Regions from separate parts of the Homo sapiens genome. Here region 2 is linked to region 1. Evidence: fine-mapped expression QTL. A gene starts in region 1. The other region holds a variant in brackets. All regions are shown on one strand. Distances are from middle to middle.

The links. PIP is the estimated chance that this variant, and not a neighbour inherited with it, causes the effect.
Region 2: its variant is the best candidate, but not a certain one, in a credible set for the expression of METAP1 in visceral fat (GTEx, PIP 0.60).

Annotation. Positions count from the first base shown.
Region 1 is chr4:98,987,284-99,003,510 of GRCh38, reverse strand. METAP1 (methionyl aminopeptidase 1) reads right to left here and starts at 7,790. Exons shown (of 11, transcript NM_015143.3): 1 at 7,644-7,790. The coding sequence starts at 7,757. It overlaps MIR3684 (microRNA 3684), which reads right to left and starts at 6,124; the gene lies at 6,051-6,124. RefSeq lists enhancers at 6,595-7,377, 8,299-8,348 and silencers at 7,119-7,578, 7,739-8,058.
Region 2 is chr4:99,279,319-99,287,318 of GRCh38, reverse strand. ADH1A (alcohol dehydrogenase 1A (class I), alpha polypeptide) reads left to right here. Exons shown (of 9, transcript NM_000667.4): 3 at 331-469; 4 at 2,516-2,603; 5 at 2,701-2,920; 6 at 4,713-4,973; 7 at 7,040-7,175; 8 at 7,755-7,893. LOC100507053 (a long non-coding RNA gene) reads right to left here. Exons shown (of 10, transcript NR_037884.1): 5 at 286-524. Among named protein-coding and RNA genes, the nearest start is that of ADH1A, 7.7 kb to the left of the region's middle. RefSeq lists an enhancer at 1-1,052. The variant T/C (reference allele first, on the strand shown) is at 3,309.

The DNA.
Region 1 (16,227 bases):
AGTCAATCCCATCCCTATTACCAGTTAGTGAAATAATCAGTAATAACATAAATCCCCACTCAGAAGACAAAAAAAAGTTATGACATTTTTAAAACCTAACGGAACTTACATTTACCTATTTTATTGAACGACTAAGCCTGTAACTTGCTGGATAAGACAGGGTTAACCTTCAGAATGTGATGCAAAGATTGGTTTGCGTTTTGTACTTAAATCACAGAAGAATCATTAAACACACATTCAAAACACAGAGAAGTCTCTGTTGCCTCCCACTTTATAATGATAAGGGAAGTTGCTAAAGTTACAATTTCACTTATCATTTATATCCTAACCACTCTTTAAAGGCTTGAGCCTGTGACCCAGATAAATGCCACATTAGCAGATAGCAGACCCCAATTAACAGGGGCTTTTCTTGGTTTGTTGTTTTTTGTTTGTTTGTTTGTTTTTGAGACAGTCTTATTCTGTTGCCCAGGCTGGAGTGCAGTGGCGCAATCTCAGCTCACTGAAACTCCACCTCTCAGGTTCAAGAGATTCTTGTGCCTCAGCCTCCTGAGTAGTAGCTGGGATTACAGGCATGCACCATCACCACCCAGCTAATTTTTGTATTTTCAGTAGAAACGGGGTTTCCCCATGTTGACCAGGCTGATCTCGTAGCAAGATATCTGCCCGCCTCAGCCTCCCAAAGTGCTGGGATTACAGGCATAAGCCACGGCGCCTGGCCTTAACAGGGTTTTTAGAAATGCTTTCCAACAGACATGGCACAGCTCTGGTGTATCAGGAAGAAATCTTTACTGAGCCTTGCAATAAGTCAGGTTACTGGAGATAAAAACAGGAGAGAACTTATTTACAACTTACAAAGCATGAGAAGTTCCATGGGGTCCCTATCCTAGTTTCATCCATAAGGTGCCCCACACACACATGCACACACAATGAGAAAGGCAGGCCTCGTTTACAGAGTGTTTTGAATTGCTCTTTATTCAAACCCAGAGACAAGACTGATACCAATCAAGGAAATCAAAGGAAAAGACTTATAATTGTTGAGCTGGGAGCACTACCTGCCCAAGCATGAATAAAAGAATGCTTCATGTTAAAACTGTGAGGTCAGGCGAAGTTCAGGATCAAGCACAAAGGGTTGTAATTACATTTATATTCCATTACATTAAACATTTGATACAGAATGAAGCTCAACGGTTGCTTTATAAAGTATTTCTGCCTATTTAATATCTATCTAAAAGTGTTTGCTATTGCAGTAATACCAAAGACAATTACAGAAGGAGTTACCGTGCCACTGCTTTTCTTCCGAATATCTAGAGCTGGAATGAGCTTAGCTATGCACTTATGTCTGTCACTCCTATGAAATTTACTAAAACTTAACTAAAATTTTGCAAATATGCTAAACATGAAAAAGATTCACCTTAAAAAACCATGACTAAAACTTGATTTCAATCCACAAACTAAGTGAACAGTATAAGATCACATTTCCTATAGCACTTCAATTTCCAAAAAGGTAACTCAAAGACTGGTATAACTTTTGATTGCCTACCAACCAAATGATGCTCGTTTTTTTGTTGTTGTTGTTTTACAAATTCTACTGTAATGTAGGTATATTTCATGCCAAAACTTCATAGATGACCAGAAGGCCCTCAAACCAACAATAATCCACTAACTACACTGTGAGAACCACTGTTCTGGAAAAGGATATAGAATTAGCTTAGGATAGTTCAATTCTGGGTTCATGTACCAAATCCTGTACCATTATTATACGTTCCTGAGTAAGTCAAAATGATTTAAATTTTCGAGGAATATTTATTGAAGAGTAAACAGAAGGTAAAAAATTGAAAAGAAATTAAATTCAACTATAAGTGAATAAACAAATGACAGTACACCCATAACAGTCTTTATAAAGGATCATGTAAATGTAGCCATGACATGACACTACCAAAACACTGGTTAAGACATTAAGGATGAGAAAATTCTCTAAGATTATATGTATTATGGTTGCCATTTTTGTAAAAACATACACAACTGTGTGCACATGAATAAATACGCAAATATGTTCTTAAGAATACACACCAAAATTTCATAGAAATCATCTCTGGGTAATTGATTATCTTCACACATATTTTCTATTTTTCTACAATAAACAATTTATGAAATTATTTTTGTTTTGTTTTAAAAAGACTCATAATTTCTCTTTACCTCATCCTATCTTTTTGCTTATAAGAAGCTATGGCATTTGTACCTAAACTCAGCTAACTTACAGGAGTGTTTAAGGGTGGTCTGAAGTGACATGAGGAATTTAAAGAAAATCCCTATAAATAAAAACGCACAACATGATAATATCTCCTTTAATGAAGATGAATTCCAGAAACACCCTGCACTGGCAGGAATGTTGTTACTGACAGAGAAAGTTTCAGAGGGCAGGGTTGCATTTCAAAGATACTGCATGTTATAACGGCAATTCCTTCTCTACCTTCTAACTCCAACCTACAAGATGCTCAACAAGACTTTCTTCCAGCCAGGTGCAGTGGCTCACACCTGTATAGACAACACTTTGGGAGGCTGAGGCAAAGTGGAACTCAGAAATTCAAGACCAGCCTGGGCAACACGGTGAAACCCCGTCTCTACCAAAAACACAAAAAATTAGCCAGGTGTGGTGGCTCAAACTGGTGTTCCCAGCTACCTGGGAGGCTGAGGTAGGAGGATCACTTGAGCCTGGGAGGTGAAGGTTGCAGTGAACCAAGATCACGCCACTGCACTTCAACCTTGGGTTGACAGAGTAAGATCCCAACTCAAAAAAAAAAAAAGAGAGAGAGAGAAGAAAAACTGTCTTGTTATTTAAAAAAAAAAAAAAAAAAGACTTTCTTCCTGGATTCAGTTAATCATGTTACCTACCACTTCTTTTAAAGAACCTATTATTGGATTTGTCAAAAATGTTCATAAACAAGTAACATTTCCCCTCAAAGATTTTTAAGCCTTCCTTGGTACTGATTTTAATAACATTACATATGAGGTTATATGCACAATAAGGCCCAAATTTACTATATGCTCTACTAGGCACCCTGGATGCTCTCTTAGTCACCTTCTGCTCAACTCCATTGAAGAGGATGCTTCATTAAGCAAAGGAGGGGACTTACCCAAGGTCATGGGAGCAAAATCCAGGTCTCCTTCCACTTACACTATGCTTACTACCTTTTATGCCTTATAAATATAAATAGTTACAGATCACTCAGGTCCCTCCCAGCTGATCCTCTAACCAGAGGAGACAGCAACTGCCCTATGCTATTCACAAAGTTAAACATCAGCTAAAAAACTGAAAAGTAACTAAATTCAACCATAAGCAAATAAATGAGTGTATCAACAATATACTATACTATTCAGTGTTTACAAAGGATAATGTAAATACAGAATTTCTTTGTTTTCCATTGCAAGCCCACTGATGTCTTTTCTTTCATGTAAGGAAATGAGGGCCTACTGTGGGCAAGGCACTTTGGAAAATACAAAAATGAGTAAAACACACCCTCTGTCCTCAAAAAATTCTTACACACAAATGAAAAAGACATACATAAACTATTAAATAGGAAGGAAAACTTCTATTAATAAACACAATCGAACATCAAGAACTCTTGGAAAACTCAATTTTCAAGTAAAACTGGTTGTACTCCTCTAAAGAACAAAAGCTTTCCTTAAAATCAAACATCCTAGGCTGGCACAGTGGCTCATGCCTGTAATCCTAGCACTTTGGGAGGCTGAGGTAGGCGGATCACGAGGTCAGGAGTTACAGACCATCCTAGCTAACACGGTGAAAGCCCGTCTCTACTAAAAATACAAAAAAATTAGCCAGGCGTGGTGGTGCGCACCTGTAATCTCAGCTACTGGGGAGGCTGAAGCAGCAGAATCGCTTGAACCCGGGAGGCAGAGGTTGCAGTGAGCCGAGATCACACCACTGCACTCCAGCCTGGGTGACAGAGCAAGACTCGGTCTCAAAAAAAAAAAAAAAAAAAATTAAGCATCCTAGATAAAATATTTCTACTTTCCTAAACATAAAACAGTATAACAATAAAAAGAGCTAACATTCATTAAGTTTACTAATATGCTAAGAGCTTTACATACTTTGGATTTAGTCTTCATCAAAACCCTGAGATAGGTATTATTAATAGCCCCATTTTAAAAAGATACAGCTGAAAAAGAGAGGTTATTTGCCCAAGTCACATAACTAGTAAATGATGGAGCTGTGATTCAAACACAGCAGTATACCTCTCTATTTTGATGCATTTATCCATTAATTCAAACATTTAATGGCCACCTACTGCATACAGAGCATCATACTGGGAAATGAGAACAGGGCAGTGAACAAGATAGGATCATTCATGAAGTTCACCTTCCGACTAAAAAACAGACATTCTCGGCCGGGCATGGTGGCTCACGCCTGTAATCCCAGCACTTTGGGAGGCCAAGGAGGGTGGATCACCTGAGGTCAGCAGTTCGAGACCAGCCTCAACATGGAGAAACCCCATCTCTGCTAAAAATACAAAATTAGCTGAGCGTGGTGGTGCATGCCTGTAATTCCATCTACTTGCGAGGCTGAGGCAGGAGAACTGCTTGAACCTGGGAGGCGGAGGTTGCGGTGAGTCGAGATCGCACCATTGCACTCCAGCCTGGGCAACAAAAGCGAAACTCCGTCTCAAAAAAAAAAAAAATCCTCATTTTTCTAACAGGTGAGGTAATCATAGATTGCACAAAAGGTCATAAAGGAATAAACAAGGTGGTGTGACAGAGTAACTGGGAATGCCTTACTTCTGTTAATGGTGTGATAGAAAGGCCTCTTGCAGTTTTGTTCTGTTTGTTCCCAAAGACAAGCTGGCCAGACAGCCAGGCCAGGGACCAGAGCAGTAGAAAGAAAGACCTCCTAGTGATCACAGAAGTGTTAAGGAAAATCCCTAATTTCTTCTTTTTGGTTTTTTGTTTTGTTTTGTTTTTGTTTTTTTCTTGAGACGGAGTCTTGCTCTGTTGCCCAGGATAGAGTGCAGTGGTGCAACCTCGGCTCACTGCAACCTCCACCACCCAGGTTCAAGTGATTCTTGTGTCTCAGCCTCCTGAGTAGCTGGGACTACAGGCGTGTGCCACCACGCCCAGCTAATTTTTGTATTTTTAGTAGAGACAGGGTTTTGACATGTTGCCCAGTCTGGTCTCAAACTCCTGACCTCAGGTGATCCACCCGCCTAGGCCTCCCAAAGTGCTGAGATTACAGGTGTGAGCCACCATGCCCAGCCAAGCCCATATTTCATCACAGATGTATAAAGCGCTTAGAATAAGTTACAGTGACTTGATCAAGGTCTCAAGCTGGGATTGGGGGAACAGCTGTGATTTCAGAAGACAGGTGACACTTCGGAAAGGAAAGAATGTAAACATAGCCTTTGGCTAGAGCAAGAGGCTCAGAAGAGGGGCCCTGAATGTGGGGCTGGAATCCTGAAAGCAATGAGGGATACGCATAATCAGACTGCGGGAAAAATAACTTCTGTACAAAAGGTTTTGTTTGATAGGGTTTTTTGTGGGCGTTTGTTTGCAAGGGGAGGAATTACAGTAGAGAAATAAATTAAGAGAGTATGACAACTGATTTGGTGGGAAATTTTAAAAGCTGACCATAGGAGGTGGTAACAGAAATGAAGAAAAAGAGACAGTTGGGACAGCCACTCTGGGAATATTTGAGTGCATGTCTAACAGTGATACCAGAAATATACCTGCAGAATCCAACATGTAAATACCTCCAATCCTAACACACGGAATAAACCCTAGATGTTTTGTTTTCACAAATTTGTCTAGCATTTTTCCACAAACCCCAGTGATTCACCTTCTTTCTACCTGTTTCATGAATGTGGTTTCACACTACCTTTTTAAAATCTTAACAGAAGATTGTAATACATATTAATTCAAAATGCCACCTACTTTTAAAGTTATTCTACTCAGATGGTACAACTGTCAAAAGCAAACACTGTTTCTTAATTTCAGGTCCCACACAGGCCACAACAAGATAGAATTTGGGAATTTTAAAGAATCTAAAGGACGTGTACTAGGTCTAACATGAGTAATGCTCAACATGTTAAACCTAGTACAGGTCCTTTAGATTGTTCGGTAATGCTATTTTTAGATCAAGCAACACTCCTCCACGTGCAAGTTTTTCCAAATTATACTAACAAGGTCAAGGATCATATCCTATCTAAAAACAAGACTGTATAACACAGCTAAGACCTTTTGCAATCGCTTATCTACAAATATTGTGACGTAAAGATTGTATTTATTTATATCTTTACGTTTTTATGTTTTATGTTGGAAAACACTTTTATTATTTGTATTGTGTTCATATATCTGCCTTCATTCTTATTCATATTTTTATTTATGGCAGAGTTAAATCGTACTAGAATCCTTTAAAAAATAAAGGACTTTACATTATAACAGCATTTCACGTTCCTTGGATAATCTGGGTCTCAGAAGAAGCTTGTGAAACTTACAAAGAAAGCTATAATCATCCCCTCTGTACAGTGTAACACTGGAACTCAGAAAGATTAAGTAACTTTACTAATTCAAGATCGCACAATAACTGGCAAGGGCAGGGCCCCAATCAGGCCTTCTCTTTATTCCGGCTCTCCTCCCCACAGGACGCTACCAATTTAATATTTGAATATTCATGTGCCTCTCTTCACTAAACCTGGACTGTAACTAAGAGCCATACTATTGCCGCCCAGCCCTCATCCTGGGTCTCGAAATGCAGCAGCAACACTAGTACTCTTCAGTAAACAGAAACACGAGCACACGCTTCAGTCTGGACCCCATTCAACGCTGGGTTTGCTCTACTGCACAAAACTTAAAATACACTACAGCATTCACGCCTAACCCTCAATGGAACTGTCCTTTTCACTCTGGGAAATTCAGTCACAGGTGACTCATCCCGTTAGCTTACAGTTTTGTAAATTAATAATTTTATATACCGAAAGAAAAGAATGAATTACACAGACCTCTCCCTTCCCCACCCCCAAAGTTGCTTAAGTGTCAAAGCACGGTAGTAAAGCACAAAGAAGTGGGGCTGGAGCTAGCTAGCGTTCCTCCTCTCTGCGACTCCGACGGTCCTCGGGCCACCCATCTCTCAGAGCCCGGCAGGTAGCTTCAGCCCCCCACCCCGCAGGGACCCGACGGACGGCCCGGCGCCTCCAGCGCCCAGACCCGAGCCCCGCCGGTGCTGCGGATGTGGAGGCTCGCGACGCTCGGGCTGCCCTCCTTCCCGGCGCCGCTACCTGCCTCCGGCAGCCCGCACACCTGGCGGCCCCCGCCCCAGCGCGGGGAACCGGCCCCAGAACGCGGAGGTCTAGCGCGGCCACGCGACCCCGCACAGCCCGCTTCCGCCCCAGCCCACATGGCCGCGGCGGGTGGCGCCCCCGCCCCCGCGTGAGCCCAGCGCGGTTCCCGAGGACCCAGGGACCCCAGGAGGCAGGAGGGGGCGGTGGCGACGCGGGTGGGGGGAGGAGGAAACGCGGCCGGGGGGAAGAGGAGGAGCGCGTCCCGACTCGCCGCAAGGGCGGGAGGAGCCAGCAGGGGAGAAGCGAGGAGGGGTCCCGCAGCGGCGGCATATCCGCGGGGCAGCGGGCGCCTACCTGCGAGCAGAAGTACGAGCCCTGGATGCCCAGCTTGATGCAAGTGGGACACTGGAGCTTGGCCTCACTGCTGCAGCCGTCTGTCTCGCACACCCGCGTCTCCACGGCCGCCATGCTGCCTGCCCGCTGGAAGAGCGCCTCACCGAGGAAGAGGCGGCGGCGGGAGGGAGGAACTGCCGGGCGGAGGGGAGGGGAGAGAGACCGAGTCGGGGGAGGAGCTGGGCCCGCCGCTGGCCTGGGCGCGGGAGGGGGAGGAGCCAGGGCCGGCCGGGACCACGCAGCGCGCCCCGCCCCGGCCCCGCCCCCGCCCCGCGCGCGCAGCTGGTGCCCCGCCCCGCCGGCTTCGCCCCGCCCCCCGCCGGCGGTGCCTGCGTGCCCAAGCCTCCCGGCGGCGCGCACATTGGGGCTGTAAGGGAGCTCGGCAGGGCCCCCCCATTCGGCGCCTTCGGGCGTCGGCCAGCAGAGAACGCGACCTGCCGGCGCCTGACGGTGAGGAGCCGCCCTCTCGCGGCGCACTCTCTGTGCCTACAGTCAGATAAGACAGTCGTCTTCACTGACGAACACCCAGGAGCCCTGATCATCCCCGACACCCGCAGGAGGCTAGAGAGGGCGCTGCGCTCCTCTGCGTTGGATTCCCCCGCCGCTCCTTGGAGAACAGTCCCTTGGGTTAAGTTCTGTTTCTCACTGACATTGTCGGGTCTGAGGCCTAAGGACCACCGCTCATTCACAGAAAGGAGAGCCATAGAGCTGTCAACGGGACGGTGGGCTGGGATTCACATCTGCCCTCCCTCCTGCCAGACTTTTTTTTTCCACACACCACCACCTCCCCTTCAAAACCGATAGTGCTAGTAATAGTAACACAACTGTCAGGTATTCAATACAAATAATTTTTTTGTATAATCCCAGTTGATTGCTTCAGCAGTAAATAGGGGAGAATTGTGCTGATCCTGAAATGTCAGAGTCGAAAGAAGCTGTAAAGGCCTTCCCCTGCGAACCTGTTGCTTCAATCTTTTCAGCTGTATTCCAGGTCGGTTGTGTTGTAACTCATGCTTGAGTGCCTCCTTGTCACTAGGGAAGAGCGAAAAACTAACATTTACTGATCACAAAAGGCTGTGAACTTTGTTATTGTATTTTTTTAACTTCTCCGTACTTAATACACCAGAAAAGCTCATACTACTTTTATTTTTAAGAACTTTGTTTTGGCTAGGAGCGGTGGCTGACGCCTGTAATCAATCCCAGCACTTTGAGAGGCCAGGGCATCCAGGGCACCAAGGCCAGCGGATTCTTTGAGGCCAGGAGTTCGAGACCAGGGTGGAAATATGGCAAAACCCCGTCTCTACAAAAACTAAAACTAAAAACTAAAAAATTAGCCGGGCATGGTGGCAGGCGCCTGTAGTCCCAGCTACTGAGGAGGCTGAGCTGGGAGGATCTGTTGAACCTGAGAAGTCAAGGATATGGTAAGCTATGATCCTGCCACTGCACTCCAGCCCAAACGGCAGAGCAAGACCATGTCTCAAAAAAAAAAAAACTTAGTTTTGCAATATAAGCAGTAAAAATGATGTAATAAAATCAAGTAATAGAAATGTTTACATGCATACATACATATACTTTTGTATACAAGAAAAAAATCAATAAGTATGTATGTATGTATAAAATATTTTTTAAATAAAAACTGCACCATACCATATAAAGTAATTTACTTACCTGATTTCTTCAGTTACTATGATGTCAACTTTTTGTTTGTCGTTTGGTTTTTCTTTGAGACAGCATCTCATCCTGTCAACCAGGCTGGAGTGCAGTGGTGCTCACAGTGAGAGGTGACAGCGAGGTGACAGCATGCTGGCAGCCCTCGCAGCCCTTGCTTGCTCTCGGTGCCTCCTGGCCTCAGCTCCCATTCTGGCCGTGCTTGAGGAGCCCTTCAGCCGCCGCTGCACCGTGGGAGCCCTTCTCTGGGCTGGCCGAGGCCAGAGACGGTTCCCTCAGCTTGTGGTAGGTGTGGTGGCAGAGGCACGGGTGGCAACTGCGGCTGCGTGCGTCGCTTGCGGGCCAGCTAGAGTTCCAGGTGGGCGTGGGCTTGGCGGCCCGCACTCAGAGCGGCCGGCCGGCCCCGCCGGCCTCGGGCAGTGAGGGGCTTAGCACCTGGGCCAGCAGCTGCGGAGGGTGCGCCGGGTCCCCCAGCAGTGCCGGCCCACCAGTGCTGTGCTGGATTTCTTGCCGGGGCTTACCTGCCTCCCCACGGGGCAGGGCTCAGGACCTGCAGCCCGCCATGCCTGAGCCTCCCCCGGCCCCACCGTGGGCTCCTGCCCACGTGGCCCAAGCCTCCCCACGAGGGCCACCCCCTGCTCCAGGGCACCCGGTCCCATGGACCACCCAAGGGCTCAGGAGTGTGGGCTTACAGCTCGGGACTGGCAGACAGCTCCACCTGCGGCCCCAGTGCGGGAACCACTGGGTGTAGCCAGCTGGGCTCCTGAGTCTAGTGGGGACTTGGAGAACCTTTATGTCTAGCTAAGGGATTGTAAATACACCAATCAGCACTCGTATCTAGCTCAAGGTTTGTAAACACACCAATCAGCACCCTGTGTCTAGCTCAGGGTTTGTGGATGCACCAATCCACACTCTGTATCTAGCTAATCTGGTGGGGACTTGGAGAATCTTTATGTCTAGCTAAGGGATTGTGAATACACCAATCAGCACTCTGTATCTAGTGCAAGGTTTGTAAATGCACCAATAAGCATCATGTGTCTAGCTCAAGGTTTGTAAATGCACCAATCAGTGCTCTGTGTCTAGCTAATCTAGTGGGAACTTGGAGAACTTTTGTGTCTAGTTCAAGGTTTGTACACGCACCAATCAGCAACCTGTCAAAATGGACCAATCAGCTCTCTGTAAAATGGACCAATCAGCAGGATGTGGGTGGGGCCAGTTAAGGGAATAAAAGCAGGCTGCCCAAGCTAGCAGTGGGAACCCATGGGGGTTACTTTCTGCACCGTGGAAGCTTTGTTCTTTCACTCTTTGCTATAAGTCTTGCTACTGCTCACTCTTTGGGTCCACACTGCATTTATGAGGTGTAAGACTCACCATGAAGGTCTGCAGCTTCATTCCTGAAGCCATCGAGACCACCAACCCACCCGGGAGAACAAGCAACTCCAGAAGTGCCGCCTTAAGAGCTGTAACACTCACCGTGAAGGTCTGCAGCTTCACTCCTGAGCCAGCGAGACCAGGAACCCACCAGAAGGAAGAAACTCTGAACACATCTGAACATCAGAAGGAACAAACTCCAGGCACGATGCCTTTAAGAACTGTAACACTCACGGTGAGGGTCCATGGCTTCATTCTTGAAGTCAGTGAGACCAAGAACCCACCAATTCCGGACACAACAGCTCACTGCAGCCTCAACATCCTGAGCTCAAGTGATGTTCCTGCCTCAGCCTCTGGACTAGTTAGGACTACAGGTACACGCCACCTTGCCCAGCTAATTTTTTAGCTTTTTTGTGGAGACAGGGGTCTCACTATGTTGTCCAGGCTGGTCTTGAACTTCTGGGCTGAAGTGGTCCTGTCACCCCCGCCTCCCAAAGTGCTGGGATTACTGGCACAAGCCACTGCACACAACATTCTTTATTGTCATCAATTATACTTTTACCACATAATTTTAATGTCTGCATAATATTCTATCGTATGGGTAATTTACTGAACCAAATCCACTAATAATGGACATTTAGGTTATTTTAAATTGTTATCTATTATAAACAAGGTTTCAGTGAATATCCGTTTAGCTAAAACTTTACATACATCCTTATTTACTTAGGAGATATATATATATATATATATATATATTTTTTTTTTTTTTTTTTTTTTTTAATAGCAACAGGGTCTCCCTATGTTGCCCAGGCTGGTCTCGAACTCCTGATCTCAAGCCATCCTCCCACCTTGGCCTCCCAAAGTACTGGGATGAGCAGGCATGCAGCCTGCATGCAGGCATGAGGCGAGGAGGTCTTCAGATACAGTCTTAAAAGTGGAATTGCTGCGTTAAGAGTTTTCACTGTCTTTTGTTCTTTATATAGTTTGCCATATTTTTACATATCTCAGTGTAACTCCCTACAAAACGTTTATCATTTAAAAAGGAAAAATAGTAACTTTAAAGTGGAGAGACCTGGGAGATACTCTTTATTGTGATCAAAGTGAAAAATCACCAATAATGTGACAAATAGACATTGTACACCTCTCTATATGAACCATTGAGGAGAATACAGTATTATCTTTTCTAGTGTTCCTGAAAAAAAATGCATAAATGCCTCTAATCATGAGGAAATATCAGACAAACACAAGCTGAAGACATTCTACAATATAATTGACCTATGCTCTTCAAAATGCCAATGTCCCAAAAGACAGATTTGAAGAACTCTTCCAGATTCAAGGAGACTGAAGAGACCTGACAGCTAAATGCAACACATGATCATGGGTTGGATTTTTGGATCAAAAGAAAGAAAGGTTTTTGCTATAAAGGAAATTAGGTTGCGTTGTATCCTTATGAATTCCCTGATTTTGACAATTACACATAGTGGAAGTCAGAAAGAGAAATGAATGATAAGACAAATGTGAGAGAACGTTAAAAATTGGAGAACCTGGGTATAGCAGAGTTTTTTATTTTTTCAATTTGCTACTTTTCTACAGCTTTGAAATTATTTTAAAATAAAAGTTTTAGAAATTCTTCCTCTCAAAAGCAAGTAAATGGTGCTAAAAATTAAAAATTAGAATTAAAAATTCTTCCTAGATGCTCAACTGCAGGATCAAGTCCAATCCAGGCTTTTTGTGTATACCTCCACGTAACTCAGCCTCGTCTCATTATTTTTCATGCCTAGGCCTTGACCATTTAGCAATAGCAAGATGCTCATGTTTTCCTGAACACATAGTGCTATTTCATTCTTCCATGTTCTTATACATGTTGTTTCCTCTGTCTGGATTGCCTTTCCCCACTTGATCTCTTGGTGAAAGTACCATTTCCTTAAGATCCGGCTCTGACATCGCTTCACCCATTAAACTTCTGCTGACCTCCTTAGCTCTACTTAATCAGTGCCTCCTCTGTGCTACCTCTAAACCAAGTACAAAGTGCTATTGTTACAATTGACAATAATTTTAGGTAACATTTATTAAGGACTTAATATATCCTAGGCATATAGTCATGTGTATGACATTCCAACACTTGGGTCAATGACAGAGCACATATACAACAGTGGTCTCATAAGATTTATTATGCCATATTTTTACTGGAACTTTGTATGTTGAGATACATTTAGATACACACATACCACTGTGTTACAATTGCCTACAGTGTTCAGTGCAGTAACATGCTGTACAAGTTTGTAACCTCAAAGCAGTAGACTGCCTGTGCACCACACAGCCAGGCGTGTAGTAGGCTACACCACCTAGGTTTGTGTAAGGACACTTTATGATATTCACACAACCACAAAATCACCTGACAATGCGTTTCTCAGAGCATATCCCCATGGTTAAGCAACACATAACTAGTGAGATGTAAAAGTATAGATACTAGTGCTTTTACTTTTAATCCTCACAACTACCCTATAAGGAAGGTACCAGTAGTAATCCCATTTTTATTTCTGTAGCCCAAGGTCACATAGCCAGTAGGTAACAGAACCTAGAATTGAGCTCAGGTTTCTCAGACTGCAAATCCCATGTTTTTAGCCACTATACTTCATTGCCAGTTTTTCACCTGTGTCTCCTACTAGACTGTGACTTCCTTGTAACAACAGATTTAATTTATTTTTCTCTCTATCTCCAAACCTTAACCCTAGCACAATGCTTGATATATAATAGGTGCTCAATAAATGTTTGGCTGGGCATGGTGGCTCTCACCTACAATCTCAGCACTTTGGGAGGCCAAGGCAGGAGGATCACTTGAGCTCAGGCATTTGGGACCAGCCTGGGCAACATAGCGAGATCTCATCTCTGCCAAAAGTAATTTTTTTTTTTTTGAGACAGTTTCGCTCTTGTTGCCCAGGCTGGAGTGCAATGGCGCAATCTTGGCTCACCGTAACCTCCGCCTCCTGGGTTCAAGCGATTCTCCTGCCTCAGCCTCCCGAGTAGCTGGGATTACAGGCATGTGCCACCACACCCTGCTAATTTTGTATTTTTAGAAGAGACGGGGTTTCTCCGTGCTGGTCAGGCTGGTCTCAAACTCCTGACCTCAAGTGATCCACCCACCTTGGCCTCCCAAAGTGCTGGGATTACAGGCGTGAGCCACTGTGCCCAGCCTAAAAGTAAAATTTTAAAAATTAGCTGGACCTCGTAGTGGTCACCTGTCATCCCAGCTACTTAGGAGGCTGAGGCAGAAGGATCGCCTGAGTCTGGGAAATTGAGGTTGCGGTGAGCTATGCTCACACCACTGCACTGCAGCCTGGGCGACAGAACAAGTCCCTGTATCAAAAATTAAAAATAAAAGTTTTTTCTTCTCAACTTGTTAGCACATTATGTCAAATATGCAAAAAAAAGATTCATGTGTCTGGAGAGAGAAAAAGAGAGAGAATATCTATTCTATCAGTCAGAACTCAGCAACCCAGCAAAAAAACAGATGGCACTCTCAAGCTGGGTAACACCAAATAAATAAAATGGTATTTTTGTGTATTTATTTTAGAGTCAGGGTCTCATTCTGTCCCCTAGGCTGGAGTGCTGTGGCTCAGTCATGGCTCACAGTAACCTCGAGCTTCTGGGCTCAAATAAGATTGTCTCACACTACAAGTACTTACCGCCACTCCCAACTATTTTGTTTTTATTTTTTATAGAGATGGGGTCTTGAAATGTTGCCCAGACTGGTCTCCAGTTCCTGGCCTCAAGCCATCCTCCCATCTCAGCCTCCCAAAGTGATGGGATTACAGGTGCAAGCCACCATGTCCAACTACAGTCTCTTCTTTTTCTTTGTCCCCTTCTCTGTTCCTTAATTCAGGATGGCTATAGTCTCGATTAAACTCTTCATTCTTTTCAAATTACCTGTAATCCCAGCACTTTGGGAGGCTGAGGCAGGAAGACAGCTTGAGGCCAGGAGTTCCAGACCAGTCTGGGCAATATAGCAAGACCCTCATCTCTTTAAAAAATAAAAGGCCGGGTGCAGTGGCTCACGCCTGTAATCCCAGCACTTTGGGAGGCCGAGGTGGGCGGATGTTCGAGACCAGCCCAGACAACATGGTGAAACCCCATCTCTACAAAAATTATCCAGGCATGATGGTGGGTGCCTGTAATCCCAGCTACTGGGGAGGCTGAGGTGGGAGAATCGTTTGAACCCTGGAGGCGGAGGTTGCAGTGAGCCAAGATCGCGCCATTGCACTCCAGCCTGGGCGACAGAGCGAGACTCCATCTAAAAATCATAATAATAAAAATTAAAATTAAAAGAAATTAAAAACAAATAGTTAAAATTAGCCACAGGTGGTAGCATATGCCTTTAGCTTCAGCTCCCTGGCATTGCTTGAGCCCAAGAGTTCAAGGCTGCAGTGAGCTATGATCCAGCCACTGCACTCCAGCTTGGGTGGCAGGGTTTCGGAAAACTGTAAGGAATGGTGTAGTAACTGAGTGTTAACAATAGGACATTTCCATTTCTGGCCCTGCAGGCACAAGGGGACTGGGCAATTACCAAAACTCACAGTGGGCTGGGTAGAGAGGGCCTCCAAACAGGAGATGTGACCTCTGCTTAAGAGACCTGGCCAGCCCAAAGTCATCCTAAAAAGTCAGGAAGCTGAGACTTCATTCTCTTCCACCTTATGATCTTCTGAAAGCTGGGACAAGGAGCCCATTGATCCTATAGAAGACCACACAAGTCAGCCTCTCAGGACAGAGGGCAGAAATGAGAAGGTAGAAAACAGATTCAGACGGACAAAAGGAAGATAATCCAGAATAATGTAATATTCACCACCCAGCTTAAGAATGAAATATGGCCAATACAGTTGATCTCCTCAGCATAACTCTCTCTGATTGCATCGGCCTTCTTCTCTTCTGCAGAGTCACTATCCTAAATTTGGTGTTTATCATTCCCATGAAGACCTTAAACCTTTGTCATGGCATTATACTCTGTACTCTTCATTCTTGCCTTCATTATTCTTCATCATGATTGTGAGATTCATCCTTGAAATTAGGGATACTTGAATCCCTAATTTCTTTATTTTCCCTACCATATAATTTTCTGTTCTCTGAATATATCACAATATGTGCATTCTCTTACGAATGGATATTTAAATCTTTGTTTTCTGTATTTTGCCCTTACAATCAATGCTTCCATGAATAGACTTACACTTGTGTGGAATACATTATTTTAAGACATAAAATTGAATAATGGAATTTTCTAACAAGGATTAGCACTTTCCTTGCTCTGTCATATCCTCATACTTGAGAATCATTGTGAGTAATGGGTTGGGAGCCAGAAAACTGATTGATTTGTCTAGTTCGTAATTCCTTGTCTCATACAAGACACTTAAAATCTTTGAGCTTTTGTTTCCTTATCTGTAAAATATTGTTATAAAAATTGGGCCAGGCACGGTGGCTCATGCCTGTAATCCCAGCACTTTGGGAGGCCAAGGCAGGT
Region 2 (8,000 bases), 290 kb before region 1:
AATTAGCATTAGATATTTTTATGTATTAATTTGCAACTTCTACTTCTATTTTTTAAAGGCATGCATTCTTTTATATTATTTAAGACTTAACTATTTCAGGATCAGTTACTTCACAGATTATTCTAAACTGTTTACTTCAAGAATGGAAGGTAGAGGAGGGTTTCAGCCTGGTCAACCTTGAGGATAAACTGAATCTTTCATACTTGGGATAGTAGGGATTATTAGCAAAACCCTTGAAAACATTTTGGAAGCGCAATTTCAGGGAACTGGGATTTTTAAATTCACCTGAGACTCACAATCTTTTATAAACATCTTCTCTTCACTCTGTAGATGGTGGCTGTAGGAATCTGTGGCACAGATGACCACGTGGTTAGTGGTACCATGGTGACCCCACTTCCTGTGATTTTAGGCCATGAGGCAGCCGGCATCGTGGAGAGTGTTGGAGAAGGGGTGACTACAGTCAAACCAGGTACAGGATTCACATTCAGGAAACATGATGGTTCACCATCCTAAGATTTCCCAGCCTGAATGAGGAAACAGAGGCAAAGAGGGACGAAAGGGCTTGACCAAGGTCACCGCGCAGCCAGGACTTCAGGGATTTCCTCTTTCCCTCTCTTCCTGCCTGACTCAAGCATGTATGTCTTTAGGCACGCATGTATTCTACCCTTCAACAATTATGTACTGAGCATCTGCTAGATGCCAGTCACCAGGTTGGAGCCTGGAGATATGTGAGGATCAAAAGGGACACAGTGCCTACTAGTGTGGCATTCATAATCTAGTAACTTCCGTGTTAGTGTTGGTGAACACGGTCTTCTGTCAGGGCCCAGACACCTAGAAATGGGAGGAGGGAAAAAACATAAGTATGGACATTGTTCTGTGCTGAGTTCACAAAATGGACGCTACATGGCTACGGCTGAATGAGCATGACCTTTTCTTAGGTGACCTATGCAGCCCCTTCACCAATTTCCTCTTGCAACGTGGTCTCTCTTCCTGAGCAAGGAATCAATGAAGCAGACTAGGTGAAAGGAAATGAAAGAAACATAGAAAGAGCCATCCACCATCAACAATGTCTGCCTTATTACTTTCAGCCATGCTTAAATGTAACTGGTTACGGATTACTAATTATAAAGGGAGAATAACTAGGACACTTCCATACTATCATTTTCACATAAATTTTACCTATAAAATGTTATGGGCCAACCATTTTTCTTGGTCTTGTGGAATAGACAGCATAGGTAATTTAAAATAAAAATTATGTTTAATTCTAAAAAAATCACTTTTTTTTTTTTTTTTTTTTGAGACGGAGTCTCGCTCTGTCGCCCAGGCTGGAGTGCAGTGGCGCGATCTCAGCTCACTGCAACCTCCACCTCCCGGGTTCACGCCATTCTCCTGCCTCAGCCTACCGGGTATCTGGGGCCACAGGTGCCCGCCACCACACCCAGCTAATTTTTTCTGTTTTTAGTAGAGACAGGGTTTCACCATATTAGCCAGGATGGTCTCGATCTCCTGACCTCGTGATCTGCCTGCCTCGGCCTCCCAAAGTGCTGGGATTACAGTCTAAAAAATCACTTTAGGCACTAGATTGGACCTGCCACTTTACCAAATACTTATTTGAACTGTGAACAGAAAAATAAAATGAACTGTCCAATTTGGGTTTCAGCTCCTACTAATTTCTTTAGTAGTAATAAATTAATAACTACTGAATAATAACTAATAACTACTAAACTACTAATAATAACTACTAAATAATACTAATAGTAACTAATTAGTTAGTAATAAGTTAATAACAAAATGACACCCTTACTTTTTACCCATGCTCCCTCCACTGTAACAGGAAAAGTAGATAATTCACAAATTATCAGCTAAAAACATTTCAAAGTCAGTTCTTATCCTAAAAGTGCCTAACTTATTGTGGAGGGTTGAAATTTCCAGAGGAATTTCTGGAATTGTTCTTTGTCCCATTTTTGATAGTTTTCCTCAAAAAAAGAACTGAGATCATTTTAAAAGCATTCATTTCATAATAAAGATAAACCTAGTTACTTTGAAAAGAATTAGTTCAAAATTCTCATTTTTATTGTAAATCAAACTATAACAAAAAACAGGTCTTACCAACATCTAGTGGAACTATTATACCCTACTTTCAACTAAAATTTATATTTATACTTACAGTAAGATTTATATAGTTAAGGATTAAATTAAATGTTTGTAAAGCCTCCAGGAGAAATTGGTACACCACATGAAAGTAACTGTTAATACAGTGGAAGCAATTTTTCTAATCCATGTTGTTTCCCATATTTGCATGTCCTCTTTAGGAATCTTCAGGCACTTATAAACCCAAACTGGAAACAAGGCTGTGGCAGGCAATGACAAATGACATATTTGTGATTGGACTGTATTTCTTGGAGACTTTTAAAGACACATGTTTCTAATGTTTTAAAGACATGTGAGCTTTATGTTTTTGCTCTATTAATACCTGGATAGAAATTGTAAAAGAATTTGTTTTATCCCTCTCCAGGTGATAAAGTCATCCCACTCGCTATTCCTCAGTGTGGAAAATGCAGAATTTGTAAAAACCCGGAGAGCAACTACTGCTTGAAAAACGAGTAGGTTTCTGATGCTCTCCCTGCGCAGACATTGAGTTTGCACATTAGTTATGGTCCTGTCTCATGCCTTTGTGTGTCTTTGTATTGCACTGTCCAGTGTAAGCAATCCTCAGGGGACCCTGCAGGATGGCACCAGCAGGTTCACCTGCAGGAGGAAGCCCATCCACCACTTCCTTGGCATCAGCACCTTCTCACAGTACACAGTGGTGGATGAAAATGCAGTAGCCAAAATTGATGCAGCCTCGCCTCTAGAGAAAGTCTGTCTCATTGGCTGTGGATTTTCAACTGGTTATGGGTCTGCAGTCAATGTTGCCAAGGTAAGAATGGCAATGGGTGATAAAAACAGTTACACGCAGACTGTCAGGAACCCAAAGGGAAGGAATGTCTCACAAGAATCGAAGATTATTTTTGTAGATTTTGAATGTCGACTAAGAATAGAAACACAATCCAGAAAGAATTGAGAGCACATGCTAGAAGTTTCACCTGTTTATCAGATTAAAAAGTTGTTGAGAGTTTAGAAAATGTAAAGATTTCATTTTCAATAATTACTCTTCTGTATTTGCTCTTTATGAGCTCATGAAATATTAGGCCTGAGAACTCATTTAGTAATTCATTCTACAATTAGAGAGCACCTACACATGCTTCAGGCACCATAGGTTCTGCTAGGCTCTGACAGCAAAAGTAAATGAAATGAAGCGTTTGCCC[T/C]TGAGGAGCAGCTAGTCTGTGGATCCTCTACTCCCAGAATTAGGATCAACAACAGTAGAGTCCAAAACCTTACCTGATGCACCTCCAAACCAAGGCTCACCCACTCTGTGGATTCTTAGACTGAAAGTAATGACGCTTCAGTGATGCGTAATTCACTCATTATGACATTTCACTGCTAAAACTAACTCCCCTGGCATGAACACACACATATATTCAGAAGTGGTAAATTTCAAGCAGAAATTCTTTAAAGGCTTCTTATCTGAGTAGGCTGAAAATCTAGTAGTATGCTTTATTTTATGAAACCGAGGCCCAGAGATATAAAGATATTTGCCCAAAGTCTCACTGCTGGTTAATATGAGAGCTGAGACTAAAATATCTTTTACTAATCTCCTGCTGAATCTTAGATCATGATACATAATTATTAGCACTTTTAAATCACAGTCACAAGCCTTGTATTTTTCTAAGTAAGTTAGAAAATGGTGTTGTCCCCCATAGTATTGCATACCACTTGGTGAATGAATGAATGAATGAATGAATAGACACCCTTAAGGGAATATAAGAATGAGATTATTTGGAACAGGAAGAGCATGTTACGCAAAATGAAGGCGGACTATGGGAGACTAGGTTTAATAAATATCCCCTGGCCAATTAAAAAAATGTAGATGGCATCTTTTCCAAATTTCTGTGACTTTAGCTCTTAGTCCCTTGTTCAATTGCCTCGTCTATTTTAACAGGTGATCTAAGTGAGCCTACCCAAGAACAGAAGATGAGGATACTCATAACAATATATTTTATTATTAAAATATAGACTAATGTTTCATTACTGTGTTATTCACTAGTGTATTTTTTAAAGCAGGGATATACTGGTCATGACTACTGAACATAAATGAACCAAGGAGTTCATTACTGAGGGTTTAAGTGGAATATTTTTCAGTCTCCTGGAGTAGCCTTTTCCACTTATTTTGTTTTCCAAATATTGCCTTTGTGTATATATGAGTTACTGAAGCTGGCTATCAAGGGATTTCAGCAATCGAGAGTCCCTTCAAGATTGTAATCACTGCCATCTGGATCTCAAAGATCATCCAGTCGCCTGGTTCCCAGCCTGACCTTCCCATTGGAGTCACCTGGGGACTAAGTTCCACCTGCAGAGCTTCTCATTTAATTGGCATGGGCTGTGACCTGGACAGTGGGATATTTTTAAACCTGCCCAGATGAATCCAATATGCAGCAGTTTGAGAACCACTCAACTAGTTCAACTCCATGAATTTAAAAATAAAGCAACTGAAGCCAAAAGAGGTTTTGATAACAGATTGAACAGAAGAGTTTGAGCAGCTTTTGATAAACACTAAGCATGGCACTTTATAAAGTTTTTATAATCCATTTTTGCATTTTCTGAAAACACAGGTCACCCCAGGCTCTACCTGTGCTGTGTTTGGCCTGGGAGGGGTCGGCCTATCTGCTATTATGGGCTGTAAAGCAGCTGGGGCAGCCAGAATCATTGCGGTGGACATCAACAAGGACAAATTTGCAAAGGCCAAAGAGTTGGGTGCCACTGAATGCATCAACCCTCAAGACTACAAGAAACCCATCCAGGAGGTGCTAAAGGAAATGACTGATGGAGGTGTGGATTTTTCATTTGAAGTCATCGGTCGGCTTGACACCATGGTATGTACCATGACATGCCCTGAGATTTCTGCCTCTACAACTTGGAGGATGCATTTAGGCTGCAGAATATATGTTTTCTGTATAAAGGATATTTTTAATGATGAATGGAAATTTCCCATCATCTGTTTGTTACCTGGCTTGTTTAATTTATTGTTATGAGGAATCTTTTATTCTATCAACTATGCAAACGTGTCTCAAGTCATATTTCCTCTAGAGGAAAAGCAAAGGGCTTGTTTTTCTTAACTGAGTGATAATAGATTACTTTGTTAATTTTTAGTTAAAAACTGTAAGTTAAAGTAAACATAAATAATACAAGTTCTGTTCTCAAATTGGAATGTTTTATTTTTCTGCCACATTCTTAACAAAAATGATTTAATAATTTTGCATATGTTCTTAATAAATTCCAATTTTTTTAAACATATTAGTATTTGGCCAAAAGAAGTAAGCAATTTTAGGCCAACTATTGTTTTATTAACAAAAACATGCCCTAAGGAAAGTGAAGCTCAAATGCATTACTATATTTTATCACAGAAACTGGACAGTACCTGGCACAAAACTAGAGCCCAATACTAGTAGGACTGAATACTTTGAAAAGTCAACAGATTTTTATCACCCCCCAAATTTCAAAGCTATATACTCATGGCATTGTTTATAGATTGCATGAGACAATGCATGTAATATACTTAGCACAGTGCAGCCTGTCATATGGTAAGCTCCCAATAAATGTCTTCTTTTTATTTGAGACAGGGTCTCACTCTGTCACTTAGGCTGAAGTACAGTGGCATAATTATAACTCACTACAGCCTCAACCTCCTGGGCTCAAGCAAATCTCCTACCTCACCCTCCAAAAATGCTGAGAATATAGGAACGAGCTACCACGCCCGGCCTCAGTTGGCGTTATTGATATGAAATACTATTTCCAATCTTGCAGTACTTACATCATCTTTGGCTTATTACATGATATTGCTTTCAAACAGTTACAAATATCAAAGGCAATGGGAAACACATCTCTAGCTATATTTCACCTACCCAGAATTCTCTAGAATCCTACTGAAAAAGTCTCCAGAGACCAACACGTTTCCATTGCCAAGATTTTCTAGAAGGTCCAGCAGTGTGGGTAATGGGGAGCAGCACCCTGAGATCAATGCTCTCAGCAGCCTTGCCCTGGGACAAATGCCACAGATGAATGAAGTGTCAAGAGATTCCACTTTTTCCAGGGCTATAGCTTTTCTCCTAATGTTCTTTTCCTGTATCTTCCTCCATTTTCTCATGTGGAACGGGAGTGTACCTTATCTCAAGATACCAAATATCTGACAGCCACATGTTCTGAGGATGTCTGGTCTCCCAAAGGTCAGAATCCAAAATCAAAGAACTAATCATTACATATCTTGGGGCAATCCTAAACCATTTTCTAACTATAGAACGTGTTCAGAAAGCTCACTGGAAAAGACTTTCTGAACGGTCTTTTGAGGTTCCCTAATAATCAGGGTATTTTAATGTAAAACCTATATATATTTGGGGAGATAAAAACAATGTTTAAAACATGTCCATTTGAGAAATGGACAGTAGAACAGGAATCCATTACAAAAGGAGACCATCAAGTGGACAAGAGACTACTTTGGTGATATAATCATTTATCTTGTTTCCCATTAAAATATGTGGTTGAAAGTAATGGGTTCAAAATACCTATGTAATAAATCAATGAAAAATGAATTAACCAACTCACAGATTGCCTAAGAATTATGTGATGATGAAATTGTATGCTTATATAAGGAACTGGACTTAATATATATTTGTGATGATATCTACCACTTTATTCCTTTATTAGGAAAAATTAAGTGCACTCCAATTTATTCATCCATTCTTTCATTAAAAAACCGTTTTCTGGGCATTTCCTAAATCCACAGCACTATCCCGTGCAAAAAAGGGGACTGAAGGAGCAAAAGACATAATCTCTTCCCTCTACACACTCACAATCCAGTTAAGCCTATTACATGATATTGTGCATTATGAATAGGAACTATGCGACTCCATGTTAAGAATGCTAAGTGTTCACTTTATTCCAGATGGCTTCCCTGTTATGTTGTCATGAGGCATGTGGCACAAGTGTCATCGTAGGGGTACCTCCTGATTCCCAAAACCTCTCAATGAACCCTATGCTGCTACTGACTGGACGTACCTGGAAGGGAGCTATTCTTGGTGGTATGTAGTTAGGCTTCAGAGCCAAATTCTCATTAACCTCAGCATATCTCCCCTTTTACAAGTGACAAGGCAAGGTTTTGAAAAGCAGATCAAAAACAAATTAAAATTCCTTTTCTATCTACAGTCTCCAAATCAACTAGATATGGAACTAATGCAGGCAGAAGGTCCCAAAATCGACATTTCTGATGCCACCATTAACAAAGTCTGTTCCTCTTCATCTGTTTTCGTACTTGTAACTGTGTAAGGCATGGGAATTTCTAGTAAGACACAGAAATCTACAACAATATTTCATATCTACACCCAAATTTAGACAACTGTTAAACTTGTTCCTTTGGGCATAACATCTGTACTATGATTTCTCTGTGGGAGAGAGAATAACCAGGGACCCTTGTTTATCTGTGATTTTTTTTTAAGTCTGAGCCTGTAAAAGCTTATTGAGGTACTGTATCTCTTATTAACCTCAGTCGTTGCAGTCTGGAAGCAGCATCTTTTCTAAACTTTCATTTATTTGGAAAATCTTCTCTTCAATTCTCCTACTTACCCTGGTTGAATCTAACAATGATACCATCTTCTTTTCAGGCTTTAAAAGTAAAGAATGTGTCCCAAAACTTGTGGCTGATTTTATGGCTAAGAAGTTTTCATTGGATGCATTAATAACCCATGTTTTACCTTTTGAAAAAATAAATGAAGGATTTGACCTGCTTCACTCTGGGAAAAGGTAGATTTTTTAGTTAGTTTTCTGTTTTGCTTTTTTTTCTACCATAGGGGATTGTCTAGCAGAAAATGAAAAGGTGGAAGGATGAGAAAAATTAGAGTGCCTTGGTT